2 separate regions of the Homo sapiens genome follow, and region 2 is linked to region 1. Evidence: fine-mapped expression QTL. Tissue or cell type: prefrontal cortex. Region 1 holds a variant in brackets; the other region holds the start of a gene. All regions are shown on one strand. Distances are between the middles of the regions.

Region 1 (8,264 bases):
TTTTGTGTTCGGCTTCTTTTGTTCAGCATTATGCTTGTGGAATTCATCTATGCCGTTGCATATTCCTGTGGTTTCATTTCTTCTCATAACTGTGTAGTGTTCCCTTTGGTGATAAACCACAATTTATTTATTCAACTGTTGACAGGCATTCGGTTGTTTCATCATGGGCATTACAAATAATGCCATCATGAGCATTTTTTAGATGTCTCTTGGTGCACGTGTGCAAATCATTTTGTTGGATATATACTTAAGAGTGGAATTGATGGATTATAGGGAATACCTGTCTTCGCTTTTAGTAGATATCAAATTGTTTTCCGAAACAGTGGAACCAATTAACTTTATCACTGGTGTTCTTCATGCTCCTTGCCAACACTGGGCATTGTCCATCCTTTTAATTACAGTAATTCTGGTGGGGTATGTAGTGTCATCTCATTATTGTTTTACATCACATTTTTTGATTTGTTATGAGGCTGGACACTTTTTTATAGGTCTGCTGGTCATTGGGCTATCCTCTTTTTGTGACGCACATGCTCCAAATCTTATCCTGTTTTTCAATTGGATTGTCTTTTCTTTATTTGTTGAAGTTCTTTTTATATTATTGAAAAAAGCCATTTAAGACTTATATGTGCTGCAAATTCTTTTCCCTCTCTGTTGCTTGCCTTTTCAGTATCTTAATGGTGTCTTTTTTACACCATAATTGAAATGTGGTCAACTATATTAGTCTTTCCCATTGTGGTTAGTGCTTTTTAAATGCCATTTAAGACATTTTTACTAATTTGATGTCCTGAAGATATTTTTCTGTATTACCTTCTAGATCAGTGTTGTCTAATAAAAATACTAAGTGAGCTGCATACATAATTTAAAATTTGTAGTATCCACATTAAGAGAGCAAAATAATCAGATAAAACTAATTTTAATATTGTGTTTTTTAACTCACTCCAAATTAGTATTTCAAAGTTTCAATATAAAAATTGAGATATTTCACATTGTTTTTTCCTACTAAGTAATTAAAATCAAATGCAAATTTTACTTAATAGCACATCTCGAATGTTCAGTATCCATACATGGGCAGAGCAGTTCTAGAAGATTTATTGTTTTTACCCTTTCACATTATATCTTATGTTCCACCTGAAAATGATTTTTTGAATGAATTGTGAGGTAGAAATCATTACTTACTCATTTGGGCATCCAGTTGCCTTAAGACCACTTTATTGAATATAAAGACAGTCCTATCTTCACTGTTCTGTTATGCTACTTTGGTATTAAAGTGTCCACATATGTGTGTCTTGTTCCTGTATTCTGTGACATTTGTCTATTTTTCTATGCTTGCACCAGTATTACACTATCTTATTATAATTTTTGTAATAAGTTTTGATACCTGGTAAAGAAGAATTTCTTCTTAGGAGAGTCTTGGCTACTCTTGACCCTTTACATTTCCATATAAATTATAATCAGCTTGCCAGGTTCTGCAAAAATATCTTTTGGAGTTTTGATTGAGATTGTATTGAATCTAAGGATCAGTTTGAGGACAGCACTTCTTTTTATATTATCTGTTCATCAGATGCTCTCATCTGGGTAGGATCTGGACATGCTGTGCCTTCCAGACTCTGCTACCTTTCCCTTTCTGGCGTGGAAGCAGCTAACTGAGAGGGAGGCTCAACCCTCAGCTTTGATGAGAGCCCTGGAGGGCCCCCTCCCTCTTTTTGCAGGAGACTTTCCTTAAGGGCAGAAAGTCCCTGGCAAGATTCTGGAATTCTAGGATGAAGAAAAATGAAGTCTGGGAGGAACCAGACCCAAAAAAACACAATAAAAAACAAAACTCTGTACCCTGTATCTATATAGCAGGGGCCTTGTACCCTGTGTGTGAGTTCTCAGGGGTCACCTGTTCTTGCATTGACTTGAACCTAGGGCACATCAACACAACTTACCCTACTTGAAAACAGATTAACGCTTTTTACTCCTCACTCTCCTCTTTCTCTGTCATCAGTCCTATAGTTTGCTTTGTGGTTTCAGACCAAGTTCCATTGAGAAACCAGTTCCAAAGGTAGAGGCTTGTATATCCTAGCTGACTAGACAGGAGAGGAAAGGAACAGACTGTCTTGGCCGGGCGGGCGGATCACTTGAGGTCAGGAGTTTGAGACCAGCTTGGCCAACATAATGAAACCCCATCTCTACTAAAAATACAAAAAATTAGCCAGGCGTGGTGGCGGGCGCCTGTAATCCCAGCTACTCGGGAGGCTGAAGTGGGAGAATCACTTGAACTGAGAGGTGGAGGTTGCAGTGAACCAAGATCACACCACTGTACTCCAGCCTGGGCAACAGAGTGAGACTGTCTCAAAAAGAAAAAAAGACTGTCTAGAAAAAGGTAATCTCTAGAATCTGAAGAGGGTTAACAAAATGAGGATTAAGGCAAAATACAGTTAGTAATAAGATAACAAGGAATCTGATCATGGAAAAGGGGTCCTTGTAACTTACTGAGGCTGAATGTTGGTTTACCATCTTACATTTTCTACGTCCATTAAATCAGCCTTCTGGGAATCCACAGTCCTGGCAATTCTGAACTGCCCCAGGAGGAGGGAAGCCATCTCTCTAGGGTGAGATAGGTGAGCCATCAGGTCTGGTGGTGGGAGTCCACAGTCCTGGCACTTCTGAACTGCCCCAGTAGGAGCGAGCCCATCTCTCCAGGGTGAGATACGTGAGCCGTCAGGTCTGGCTGTGGGAGTCCACAGTCCTGACACTTCTGAACTGCCCCAGTAGGAGGAAAGCCATCTCTCCAAGGTGAGATTTGTGAGCTGTCAGGTCTGGCTGAGAGAATGCACAGTCCTGGCAATTCTGAACTGCCCCAGTATGAGGGAAACCATCTCCCCAGGGTAAGATTTGTGAGCCGTCATGTCTGGCTGTGGGAGTCCACAGTCCTGGCACTTCTGAACTGCCCCAGTATGAGGGAAGCCATCTCTCCAGGGTGAGATTCATGAGCCATCAGGTCTCGTTGGGAGAATCCACAGTCCTGGCACTTCTGAACTGCCCCAGTATGAGGGAAGCCATCTCTCCAGGGTAAGATTTGTGAGCCGTCAGGTCTGGTTGTAGGAGTCCACAGTCCTGGCACTTCTGAACTGCCCCATTATGAGGGAAACCATCTCCCCAGGGTAAGATTTGTGAGCCGTCAGGTCTGGTTGTGGGAGTCTACAGTCCTGGCACTTCTGAACTGCCCCAGTATGAGGGAAACCATCTCCCCAGGGTAAGATTTGTGAGCCGTCAGGTCTGGGTGTAGGAGTCCACAGTCCTGGCACTTCTGAACTGCCCCAGTATGAGGGAAGCCGTCTCTCCAGGGTGAGATTCATGAGCCATCAGGTCTCGTTGGGAGAATCCACAGTCCTGGCACTTCTGAACTGCCCCAGTATGAGGGAAGCCATCTCTCCAGGGTAAGATTTGTGAGCCGTCAGGTCTGGTTGTGGGAGTCCACAATCCTGGCACTTCTGAACTGCCCCGGTATGAGGGAAACCATCTCCCCAGGGTAAGATTTGTGAGCCGTCAGGTCTGGTTGTGGGAGTCCACAGTCCTGGCACTTCTGAACTGCCCCAGTATGAGGGAAACCATCTCCCCAGGGTAAGATTTGTGAGCCGTCAGGTCTGGTTGTAGGAGTCCACAGTCCTGGCACTTCTGAACTGCCCCAGTATGAGGGAAGCCATCTCTCCAGGGTGAGATTCATGAGCCATCAAGTCTC[T/G]TTGGGAGAATCCACAGTCCTGGCAATTCTGAACTGCCCCAGTATGAGGGAAACCATCTCCCCAGGGTAAGATTTGTGAGCCGTCAGGTCTGCTTGTGGGAATCCACAGTCCTGGCACTTCTGAACTGCCCCAGTATGAGGAAAGCAATCTCTCCAGGGTGAGATTTGTGAGCCATCAGGTCTGGTTGTGGGAGTCCACAGTCCTGGAAATTCTGAACTGCCCCAGTAGGAGGGAAGCCATCTCTCTAGGATAAGATGCAGGGGTGTACTAGGTTGTGGGGATTAGAGTACAGGGGACTAGCAAGAGGGTCTATGAGGAGGGCGAGGGGGAAAGATAGGAGGACACTTGGAAAGGGGTGCCTGACGAGCAGGGCGGTGGCATACGGACGCTCTGGAATTAACAGAGGAAGAGCTGGGCAGGGAGTTCCGGGAGGTAGGGTGCTGGGAAGGGGCGACATTAGTCAGCTGGGGGAAACAGGTACGCTGGAAAACTGAACAGCTTGGACGGTCCTGGAGAGGAGGCTGAGGGCAGGAAGTTTGAGGAGTAAGGGGAGGAAGAAGGGCTGGAAGACGAGAGCCAGAAGGAACAGAAAGAAATGGAGGCCAGGGTTGAGGCCGAGAAATTGGAGGTAGCTTTCTGGTCATTTTTCCAAATGAGTGCTGTAGTAACTCACTTGTCCAAACGAGTCAGAATGAATAACTGAGATGTGCTGAGACCGACTCCAGCATTTATCTCCTCAGGACATTCCATCACAGAATGCCTATTATGAAACATACATTTATCTCCTTAGGACATTTCTTGATGGAATGCCCATTATGAAACATACATGCTCCCTTTTATTCTAGTGAGGAGGCCCCATCAATCAGGGAAATGGTCCCAGTTTCTCAGTTTAAGAGTGGTCATGGGAAGTAGCAAAGAAAATAAATGGATCTGTAATTATTGGTCCTTGTTCTTGGGATACCATGTAGTTTTGCCCCTCCATAGGCAAAGATTGATCAAGGGGCTAACAGAGGCAGGGGCTTGGGGCCTAGGAGAGCAGTTCTGAAGCAGGAATTGGGAAAATGGGAAGTCAGTATCCTAGTCTCTTTTCCTTACTACATTGTTCAAAGCCCTTTCACATCATTTACCTCACTGTGTGAATGCACATGATTAGAGATGTTACGTTATTTTATCGATGAGGACACTAAAGACCAGAAAACGAACTACCAGTAGGCACAAAGCAGGTGGGACTAGAACTTGGCCAGAAAGAGGGCTGGTGGGAGGGAGCACAGAATGGCACAAAGTGCTTACCAGCATCTTTGCCTCCTCCTGTGTCTCTGGACAGGATCTTGTAGGAGGAGCTTAAGAGCAGAACTGTACTTTTCGTAGCTTACCTCGTAGTTCCTGTGGTCCCTTGGTTTGATGCCTTTCTGTTCACTGGAACCAGAAACAAAAGGCCAAAGCTGGTACACTCTCTGCCCATTGAAACTGTGCCCCAAAGAGCTGAAGAAAGCAGTAACAGAAATCTTCGAGCTTGCAGGATGGCAGATAAGAAACAACTTGCTAAAATAAAACTCCCTCCCCTTCTAAGAGAATGAAATTGGCTAAAATTGGTTAAAACTAATATGGCCAATGAATATATGTAGAATGAACTCGCTGATATCACAACCCAAATTTCTACCACATGTTTCATACTGACTCCTCTTGTTTCATACTAACTTCCCCTGAATTTGTGTATGGGATCCATGAGGAGGCATGGAGAGATAACTGTGCACGCCTGAGGGACTTCGCAGATGTTCCCTTTCCTTCTACCAACTACTTGCTAATCCCAGAATCAGCCCCTTAACCTTTTCTAATAAAAGTACTGCCTTAAAGCCAGCACAGGGAGACAGATTTGAGCTGGACTCCTGTCTCCTTGTTGAGTAACCTGCAATGAAAAGCTTTTCTTTTCTCAAAAACCTGGTGTCATAGTATTGGCTTTGTAAACCAAAAATAAAATTCAAAGGCACCCCTGCAACCATCCCAATGGATTCCCTCCTCAGCCAGGGCACCCTAAAATTTAACCAAAAAAGACTGGTTTAGGCCTTGAAGCCAGGTGGGGGTTGAACTTGCTTCATTATACCCTTCCAGCATTACTATCATCACAGACCTTAAGAAACATTTACAGTCTATTCTCTCTAAAGCCTGATACTTGGAGGCTTCATCTGCATGATAAAACCTCCGCAACCCCTTGTCTTCACCCAGACATTCTTTTCTATAGATAAAAACTCTTTCAACCAATTGCCAATCAGAATATGTTTAAGTGTACCTATGACTTGGAAGCCTCCTTCTTTGAGTTGTCCCACCCTTCCAGATCAAACCAATGTAAATCTTAATGTATTGGTGGATGTATTGAAGGGGGCCTGCCCCTCCACACCTGTGGGTATTTCTCGCAAGGTGGAGACGAGAGACTGAGAAAAGAAATAAGACACGGAGACAAAGTATAGAGGACGAAAAGTGGGCCCAGGGGACCAGCGCTCAGCAAGTTAGGACCTGCACCAGCGCTGGTCTCTGAGTTCCCTCAGTATTTATTGATCACTATCTTTACTATCTTGGTGAGGGGAATGTGGTGTAACTATAGGGTGATGGTGGGGAGAGGGTCAGCAGAAAAACATTTGAGCAAAGGAATCTGTGTCATAAATAAGGAAAGGTGTTGTGCCTGGATGTGCACATAGGCTAGTTTTATGTTTAACTTTACATAAACATTTCAGTGCAGTAAAAAGTAACAGAGCAGTATTGCCACCATGATGTCTCACCTCCAGCCATAAGGCGGTTTTCTCCTATCTCAGAATAGAATGTACGCTCGGTTTTACACCAAGTCATTCCATTCCCAGAGACATGCAGGAAACAAATGCCTTCCTCTTATCTCAACTGCATGGAAGTCTTCCTCTTTCACTAATCCTCCTCAGCACTGACCCTTTACAGGTGTCGGGCTGAGGGGCTGTAAGGTCTTTCCCTTCCCACGAGGCCATATCTTAGGCTGTCTCAGTGGGGAGAAACCTGGACAATACCCAGGCTTTCTTGGGCAGGGGTCCCTGCGGCCTTCCACAGTGCATTGTGTCTCTGGTTAATAGAGAATGGAGAATGGCGATGACTTTCACAAAGCATACTGCCTGCAAACACATTTTTAACAAAGCACATCCTGCACAGCCCTGAATTCCTTAAACCTCAGTCAATACTGTCAGGCCTCTGAGCCCAAGCCAAGCCATCGCATCCCCTGTGACTTGCACGTATATGCCCAGATGGCCTAAAGTAACTGAAGAATCACAAAAGAAGTGAAAATGCCCTGCCCCGCCTTAACTGATGACATTCTACCACAAAAGAAGTGTAAATGGCCGGTCCTTGCCTTAACCGATGACATTCCCCCACAAAAGAAGTGAAAATGGCCGGTCCTTGCCTTAAGTGATGACATTACCTTGTGAAAGTCCTTTTCCTGGCTCATCCTGGCTCAGAAACCTTCCTTACTGAGCACCTCGTGACCCCCACTCCTACCCGCCAGAGAACAAACACCCTTTGACCGTAATTTTCCTTTACCTACCCAAATCTTATAAAACAGCCCCACCCCTATCTCCCTTCACTGACTCTCTTTTCGGACTCAGCCCGCCTGCACCCAGGTGATTAAAAGCTTTATTGCTCACACAAAGCCTGTTTGGTGGTCTCTTCACACGGACACGCATGAAAAATACAGCACATGTTTTTGTGAGCACAGGGTTGGGACAAGAGTTACAGATTAACAGCATCTCAAAGCAGAACAATTTTTCTTAGTGCAGATCAAAATGGAGTTTCTTATATCTTCCTTTTTCTCCATAGACACAGTAACAATCTGATCTCTCTTTGTTTTCCCCATAATGTATTATGTCTCCATAAAATGTATAAAAGCAAGCTGGAGCCTAACCACCTTGGGCATGTGTCCTCAGGACCTTCTAAGGATGTGTCACAGGTACGTCTTTAACCTCGGCAAAATAAACTTTCTAAATTGATTCAGACTTGTCTCAAATACTTTTTGGTTTACAAATTGGCAACCGATGAAAGAGACTCTGAGTATAGGTGGCCTCAACCTCTGACAAATCTATTGATATTTAGTACCAGCTTTTAGCTGTCTTTATGGTCGAAACCAACAGGACAATTGGCTGAGAGCTGGGAGCCCTCCTCCCTCCAGAGAATCCTGATCTCCCCAAATTTGGTTGAGATCCAAAGTGTATTTTGCTGTACAACTCCTTTTCTAGAGTTTTACTTGCTTCCAACAAGGAAAGCAAGTTTTCCTGCTTCCATGACAATAGAAGGCAGGTAACTCCTTTCTGGAGTTAGAGCTCACTTCCAACAGAGAAGGCGAATTTGAGTTTTCCTGCTTCTAGAATGGTAGAGAGCAGTCTTCAGCCTGAGACCCATTCCTAGGTAAGTGACTGAATTGGGGTTTCATCTTGGTTAAAGTTATGATGCAGCTGGTCGTAGTTTCTCCTTACTGTTATAGCGCTCAGTAATCATATTGTTGGGTTTTTGTTGTTGTTTGTTCTGGTCTTT
Region 2 (8,000 bases), 250 kb after region 1:
GGCAGCCGCCCCGTCCGGGAGGTGGGGGGCAGCCCCCACCCGGCCAGCCACCCCGCACGGGAGGGAGGTGGGGCCAGCCCCTGCCTGGCCAGCCGCCCCATTCGGGAGGTGGGGGGCAGCCCCTGCCCGGCAGCCATCCCGTCCGGGAGGTGGGGGGCGCCTCTGCCCGGCTGCCCCATCTGGGAAGTGAGGAGCCCCTCTGCCCGGCAGCCACCCCGTCTGGGAGGTGTGCCCAACAGCTCATTGAGAACGGGCCATGATGACGATGGCGGTTTTGTCGAATAGAAAGGGGGGAAATGTGGGGAAAAGAAAGAGAAATCAGATTGTTGCGGCGTCTGTGTAGAAAGAAGTAGATATAGGAGACTCCATTTTGTTCTGTACTAAGAAAAATTCTTCTGCCTTGGGATGCTGTTAATCTATAACCTTACCCCCAACCCCGTGCTCTCTGAAACATGTGCTGTGTCCACTCAGGGTTAAATGGATTAAGGGCGGTGCAAGATGTGCTTTGTTAAACAGATGCTTGAAGGCAGCATGCTCGTTAAGAGTCATCACCACTCCCTAATCTCAAGTACCCAGGGACACAAACACTGCGGAAGGCTGCAGGGTCCTCTGCCTAGGAAAACCAGAGACCCTTGTTCACATGTTTATCTGCTGACCTTCCCTCCACTATTGTCCTATGACCCTGCCAAATCCCCCTCTCCAAAAAACACCCAAGAATGATCAATAAATACTAAAAAAAAAAAAAAAAAAAAACAACCATAGTCTTTTAGGCTAAGTGTTGGAAGATAGTAATAGATTTCCGGCTGTGTGACTAAATAAATCTTACTTTACTAACGTAAGTCCAAGATAACTATTCAAGCTCATCACTCTCACTGTCCCTTCACGTGGTCATCGTGCCCACCTACGAGGTATCCAAAGCCAAAAGCCCATCCCCATTTAGAACCTTTTTGGCTCCCATGACTCTCTTTTCCATTTGGCTTGTCTATTACCCTGGCTATTATTTACACACTAAAGTTCATTCTTTGAGTTCATGAGAGAACAGTTTCTGGGGTCTTTAAATTTTAAGAGAGGAACTTATGATATTCTGCTCAACTATAAGGATACACACAACTAATAAACGTGAAAGGTCCCCTCCCTTTCTTAAAAAGATTGTGCTTACTATTTTTATCTGATAAAGAGGATCACTCTATAAATATATTATTTGTCTCAAATTATGACTCACCTCTGGATAAAGATGGAAGCATTTTACTGCATTAATTCCAAGAGGATTTCAGTAAGCCTGTCATTCATTATCGTCCCCAGTCCTTCCAAAAATGAAGGTGCTTCAATATTGGTCTCGAAGTAGGAATAAAAGTCCCTTTAAAAAAAAAAAAAAAAAAAGAAGGCACATGTTGTCAATGTAATTAAAACTTTAAAATATTTATTTTTATCACTTCTTTAGAACATTTTTTTCTGAAAAAAAAGGTCAATAATAAGACTTCCTAATTACGCCTCGCTATTTTGCATTCTTGGACTTTAAAAAGCACGTATTTTCAGGTGATCACTGTACTATTCTTTCAAGTTTTCTATAGGCTTTCAAACTAAAGAGTTGGAGGGATGGTCGAATGATTTAAAGAGTTTCTCTAATAATGTCTTAAAATGTGTAGACAGTATATGTTCAATTTTCCCAAATCTGGTTTTATCCCCCACATTTGAGATGCTTGAAGGTTGACATCTGATTAATTCTGTCATAAACAGGGATGCCTTCATGCCTCTGTACAACTTTGCATATAGAAAATTACTTCTTTTTTTCCCATGCTCTTAGGAAATAAAATATAATGACCATAAGCATCATGAGCAAGGAATCCAGTGCTTCTAGCTTAATTCATAGCTCCATCTAATCCTCTGTGCTAAGTGAAAGCTCAATGTTGATTGACTATTGTTGCTCACAAATACTATGTACTAAAAAGCAGATTATTTTAGTGTCTTACACTTCAGCATATAAAATAAAGGCTTCATTAGGATAGTAAAAGTGCTGTTGAGTTAAAATTCATGGATTAACAATAGCATGTTATGTCTTATTTCCCCATCAATTTCTTGCTTTCGCTCCTAAAATCTAAAAGCAAAAAAGGGCCACATTGTTTAAAATGCATTCTCCCTAAAAAATGCTATATGCTATAATCATATCTGCCTCATCCAACACGAGTAACTACTAAATTAAACGTCTGTTTTAGCTGATGTCTGAAAGGCCATTACCTCATAGTTGATTGGCAAAATATGAGTTCATAAAGAATTTTCCTTTCTGCTTAGGAGGATAAAGCAATACAATAATTAAAGGATATCTAATATGCAAAAGTCTATATTTAGGGAAATATTAAATATTCTCTTTAAAATGTTCAAATGTCATACATATGTTAATGTATCCAATGCTTTGAAACTTTATAGGGGCAATATAGGGATGAAAATTAAAAAGCAGTGACGGAGGGGCCTGGCATAGGCAAAATCATAGAGATAGAAAATAGAGCTGAGTGTGATTAGTGTTTAGTGGGTGGAGTTTCTGTTTGGGATAGCAAAAAGTTCTGGATGTGGACAGTGGTAATAGTTGCAAGACAACACGAATGTACTTAATGTCACTGAATTGTACGCTTAAATGATAACCATTGACATTTTTCTATTACAAACTTAAATCTAAATTTCACCATAATTTAAACAAAAAGCAATGGCTAGAGTGAGGAGAGTCAGCTTCAATGCTTCAGTAGGCCCCCGACCAGCTGGGAGCAGATCTGGAAGATGGACGGTTGTGGTGTCTTCTAAATGTAAAATTGCACAATTTTGGTATTCGCTATCCCATTTACTCCTCACAATAATTATGTGAGATGTGTATGGCAGAAAACTCCATTTTAAAGATTAAGTATCGAAAAACAGAAAAATATTTAAAAATTATATCAAAAGTCATCTCTTAAAAGAGATTATCTTGAAATCAAAAGAGAACCAAATAATAATCATCATCAGTAAAAGACCCAGTAAAACATGGGACCTCCCAACTGTAGCCAAAGAAAAAGCAATTTCTGATAACATCTCATTTCATTCCCCTTTATCACTTCTTCAGTGCTTTCTTTGTCCTCCTTCCTCAGCTACTATAATTCATCTTCATTATCTTAAAAAGAAGTCTGCATTAGGAAAGGGTGAGAGATAATGAAGTAACAGAAAAATAATCTCAAACACTTTACTATTTAAATAATAAACCTGGGTTATAGCTTATGAAACAGTGCAATGAAGTATCATATTACAATAAGAACAAGTTTCAAAACCAACATTAAAATAAGCGATAAGTAAGAAAGCCATAAAAAAGGAAACAATAAATTGTTATAATATTGTTTTTATAATTTGCTTACTAACTCGTATGTTTTTAGGCATTTATAATGCAGTATGGCACACACCTGAAATTCCTTAACTCAGTGGTTTTTAAACTTAATTGTTGCCGGGTGCGTTGGCTCATGCCTGTAATCCCAGCACTTTGGGAGCCCGAGGCGGGCAGATCACTTGAGGTCAGGAGTTTGAGACCAGCCTGGCCAACATGGTGAAACCCTGTCTCTACTAAAAATACAAAAATTAGCCAGCCATGGTAGTGCATGTCTGTAATCCTGGCTGCTAGGGAGGCTGAGGCAGAAGAATTGCTTGAACCCAGCAGGCGGAGGTTGCAGTGAGCAGAGATCATGCCACTGCACTCCAGCCTGGGCGACAGAGTAAGACTCTGTCTCAAAAAAAAAAAACCAACTTAATTGTATATCTAAAATTCTTGTGGCTTGTTTCACCCTTCCTTCCATCCCAGGCCTCTAAATCAGAACAGAGGCAGGTTAGTGTTTGTTTTTTAAGTTTCAAGTGATTCTAATGTACCAGCCTTGGGAAATACCTCCGTAACTGTTGAAAAGGGTTCAGAATATAATTTTAAATAAAATTACTTTAGATCAAAACAGACTTACAATAAGTATAATATCACATAAAGGATCAACTTTCAAGCGCCAAAGAATACAGGTGTGTACTTGAAGACCTTTTAGTAGTGAAACTCAGCAGCTGTAGGCAGTGAAGAAAGGAGCATATGTGATAAACAAAATTAGCTGTGGTCAACAATTATGCTATAGCTAACTTATGTAGTCAGTACTTTCCAGTGAAGTTGAAAATAAAGCAAAGTTCCATGTATTAACCCTGTTTTCCACTAACCCTTCTTTACATGTAGGACATATGCCAGGGTACCAAAAACTGCAGGAATATTCCCTAGCATTGCAGCCTCAGTTCTAATACCAAAATCTCCCTGCAGACTAAATGTCTAGAGCAGCACTGTATCAATAGAACATAGGGGCAGATCTCATACCTTCCAAGGGTAGAAATCGCTGAGCACAGGTAAAAATAAAATATTCCAGAGGGAAATATTATTTTACAAATTTTTATAAACACTTTTGTAAAATAATGTACACAGCCTTGCACACTGAAAGAGTCAAAGCCATTTAACTCTGTATAACCACTGCAGAATCTTTATCTTCTTTTTTACCTGACTTCCAATTGGCGGGTGTTACTAAAACTTTATCACCAAAGTTATTTCACTAGCTGAGCGTGGTGGCTCATGCCTGTAATCCCAACACTTTGGGAGGCCAAGGCAGGTGGATCATTTGAGGCCAGGAGTTTGACACCAACCTGGCCAACACGGTGAAACCTCATCTCCACTAAAAATACAACAAATTGGCTGGGTGTGGTGGCGCATACCTGTAATCCCAGCTACTCAGAAGGCTGAGGCACGAGAATCACTTGAGCCTGGGAGGCATAGGTTGCAATGAGTCAAGATCGCGCCACTGCACTCCAGCCTGGGAGACAGAGCAAGACTGTCTCAAAAAAAAAAAAAAAAGTTATTTCACTAGCAACATATAATTACCATAAAACAAAGGAGGGTTTTAAATGAACTACACATGCAAAATACACTAGAAAAGCTAGATATTTTTAAAAACGTGGTGAATTATTTGGTAAAGCCAAAATATTTTAATTCATAAGTTACTATTCCCCCAATGCATCTATTTTGTAAATGCTGTTTCACATATGAGGTTTGTAAAAAAGCAAAATATATGTATAAAATGGCGTACATAAAGATGTTCTACAAATATAGCCAGAAGTTATTGTTTTACTGTATGCAAAGAGTGATGGCAATTTTTAATTCAAATGTTTTTAAATATTTCGAACTGAAACTAAATCTTACCAATGTAAAATTGCCACAAAGACGGCTGGAAAAGAGAAAAGTTATTAAAAGCTGCTTTATTATAAAATACCATTAAAACAAGTATTTCAAATGTATTATTTTACATGTCTAGAAAAGATAGCACAGAAAGCAAGATGGCCAGCTAATCCTGTCTCTATGAGCATAGGAAAAAATCCAGGACACAAAGTAAATTCTGAACAGAGCTTACCTCTCTGCAGCAGGGCTTGACAAGCAAAGGGAGAGACTTGAGAGGGTTTTTTTACTTCAGTTAATTGGTAGGAGTGATGGAATTATGGAATATTGTGACCTTTTTTGTTTTTTTTTCTTTTTAGTATTCTATTCCTTTATATGAAATTTTTTAAAGAAGTAAATATATACAGTATGCTTCAGCTCGTTCTAACCAAGAGGTGCCACTCTAGATCAGTTTCTCTAGCATTCATCAGAAGACGATTAAATGCAGGCAATCACTTCCTCAGCAGCACATCTAAAAGCCCCATTGTGCAACTCAACCCTTGATGAATTGCAAGCTCTTTGCAAGCGCCCAGACTTAGGAACTACTAGATGGCCTAGGAGACTTATCTGGAGGCACCTGTGCCAGCACCCCATGTATACGTAAGACTTCACCAGGGAGCTGGGAGACACTGCTCTGGGTATGGAGCTTTTACCAGAGCTGCAAACGCAGCCTGTGCCCCTGTTTCGTTGGGGAATTGCTTGTTTTCAAGGGTACCATGGAGCTGGAGAGAGAAAAGTGGGGAATAGAACAAGTTAAAACACCACAGACTTTGCTGTTCTTATAGAGGTTCAGCAGCTTTTCTTGAATTAATGCCCTTTAGATTGTTGTAAACCTTTGGTTAACTTCCAAAGTTTTGAAGAAAATGATTTTGATAATTTTCCAAGTATTTTCATTGTCATCATGGAGGAGTGCATTTCCTTGGCTATTCCAGAAGTCCTACCTCCCTTCTGAGATTTTATAATGGTATTTCTTATGGTTATCCCAAATATACTTGGCAAGTCGTCTTATAAACCACCAATAATAGCCTCTTAAAAATTCAAAAATTACTCCTCTTGGCTAACAAAATAAATGCAAATTAATTTAATAATTGTTGAAGAAATTAAATTTTTTAAAATTAAAAAATTGCAATGTTGAAATTCTCAACCATGCTTATCCAGACCTTTTCCTATACTACTAACTGCCCTGGGCTTATCTTAAATACTTCTCAGAAGATTTACTTGTTTTACACCAGGATAGGCAAAGTATGGCCCACAGTGTATTTTTGGACTGTCTGCAAGCACAGTTGCTATAATTTTTAAAAGGCTGAAAACTTTAAATTTTTGTAAATATGCTCATTAACTGTTTATTAGGCTTCATTAATTTTAAAATATACAGAGACTATCCTATTCAACTATATTTGTATCCTATTTCTAATTCTCCTAACAATTATATACACTGGCAAAAACTCTTCAGATGATATATAAGGAAAAGGTCAAATATACTACCGAATTCATCCAGCTTTCCAAAGATGCTCAAAATCTTTCTGTGTCTCTCACTCCCTCCCTTAACCCACATACCACATCTGAAAAAAAATGATATGGTGTAACGATGCCAGTATTCTAAATGCTTGAAGGGCTTATCACATGCCCTTTCCAAGCTGTGACAGAAGCATGTCCCTTGGACCCCGGCATCCTGTCAATCTCACCTCTGAAGGTGACCCAGTCTCATACTTCACTGAAACAAAGACCATTAGACGCCAGCACTCCCGACTTCTTTTATCTCCACTTTAACATTTCTCCATATAGTAATCCTCACTTTTCTACTCCCTGTCATCTCAGAAAAGGAATTCTCTCTCCTCTTTTCCACAGTTAGCTTCTCAAATTTGTGCCTTTAATTCTACCCCTCCCAAATATTCCAAGACTTGCTCCACTAATTATTTCCTCTCTTGGAATCTTAATCTCATCCTCTTCCCTTGATCCCTCCCCTCAGCCTTTAAAACTCCTAGACCTTAAAACACTCTCTGTGATCTGACAGCCCTTCAAACCAATATACTCCCCATCTCTCTCCCCTGGTTCAATGGCAAGATCTTTGGCCAACTGCTTTCTACTCGGACCTTGCTATTATTTGCTACTAGGCACCCACAAACCGTTGCTTGTTAAACTGATCTCCTTCAAGACTTAAGAAAAGCGCCATGCGGCTCCCTCCCAGGGCTCTCCTGCCCTCTCCTCACCGATGCCAAGAGTGGTCCTGCTGGAGAACTGCCGCGCCTGCAGTTCGTGCACCTTTTCCCGAAGCTGCGCCAGGAAATTATGGACGAACTGGAAGGGGCCGAGAAGAAGGGTCTTGGCCCCCAACTGTAGCTCCAAGCCTTTTTGTGCTTTCAGATTTCGGATCCTCCGCGTGGAGCACCTTGGGGCGCCCCTTGGCAGGTTCCCGCCGCATAGGGCCGACTTTTCCACCTCTGGCTCCAGGGCGGGAAGATTGTAGCGGCTTTGAGCTTACTACTTGTTTTCTTATAATCCCTGGCGGAGCTGGGTCAATTTCAGGCACAGCCCAGCTCAGTCAGGCGAGGTCCAGAAAGGCCTGACTTGCCTGGCAGCCTCAACGGACTTGTCCCCGCAGCCCTTGCGGACCTCCTGGTCGTCATGGCGACTGTGAAATGTGGGGTGGGGAGCATGCGTTCGAAGCCATTTGCGCGGGCAGTCCCTGCGTGTCCCCCCACGTGCTCCCCAGCACTCGCAGGACCCCCGCCTCCGAGCTTCCCTGAGCGTGCAGCTTCCAGTG

What was found. PIP is the estimated chance that this variant, and not a neighbour inherited with it, causes the effect.
Region 2: it holds the start of LINC00997, and the variant in region 1 is fine-mapped to the expression of LINC00997 in prefrontal cortex (GTEx, PIP 0.90).

Annotation. Positions count from the first base shown.
Region 1 is chr7:32,507,512-32,515,775 of GRCh38, forward strand. The region is part of intron 1 of AVL9 (AVL9 cell migration associated); the gene reads left to right. Among named protein-coding and RNA genes, the nearest start is that of AVL9, 16 kb to the left of the region's middle. RefSeq lists enhancers at 5,633-6,207, 6,762-7,386. The variant T/G (reference allele first, on the strand shown) is at 3,725.
Region 2 is chr7:32,754,052-32,762,051 of GRCh38, forward strand. LINC00997 (long intergenic non-protein coding RNA 997) reads left to right here and starts at 4,235. Exons shown (of 1, transcript NR_036501.1): 1 at 4,235-8,000.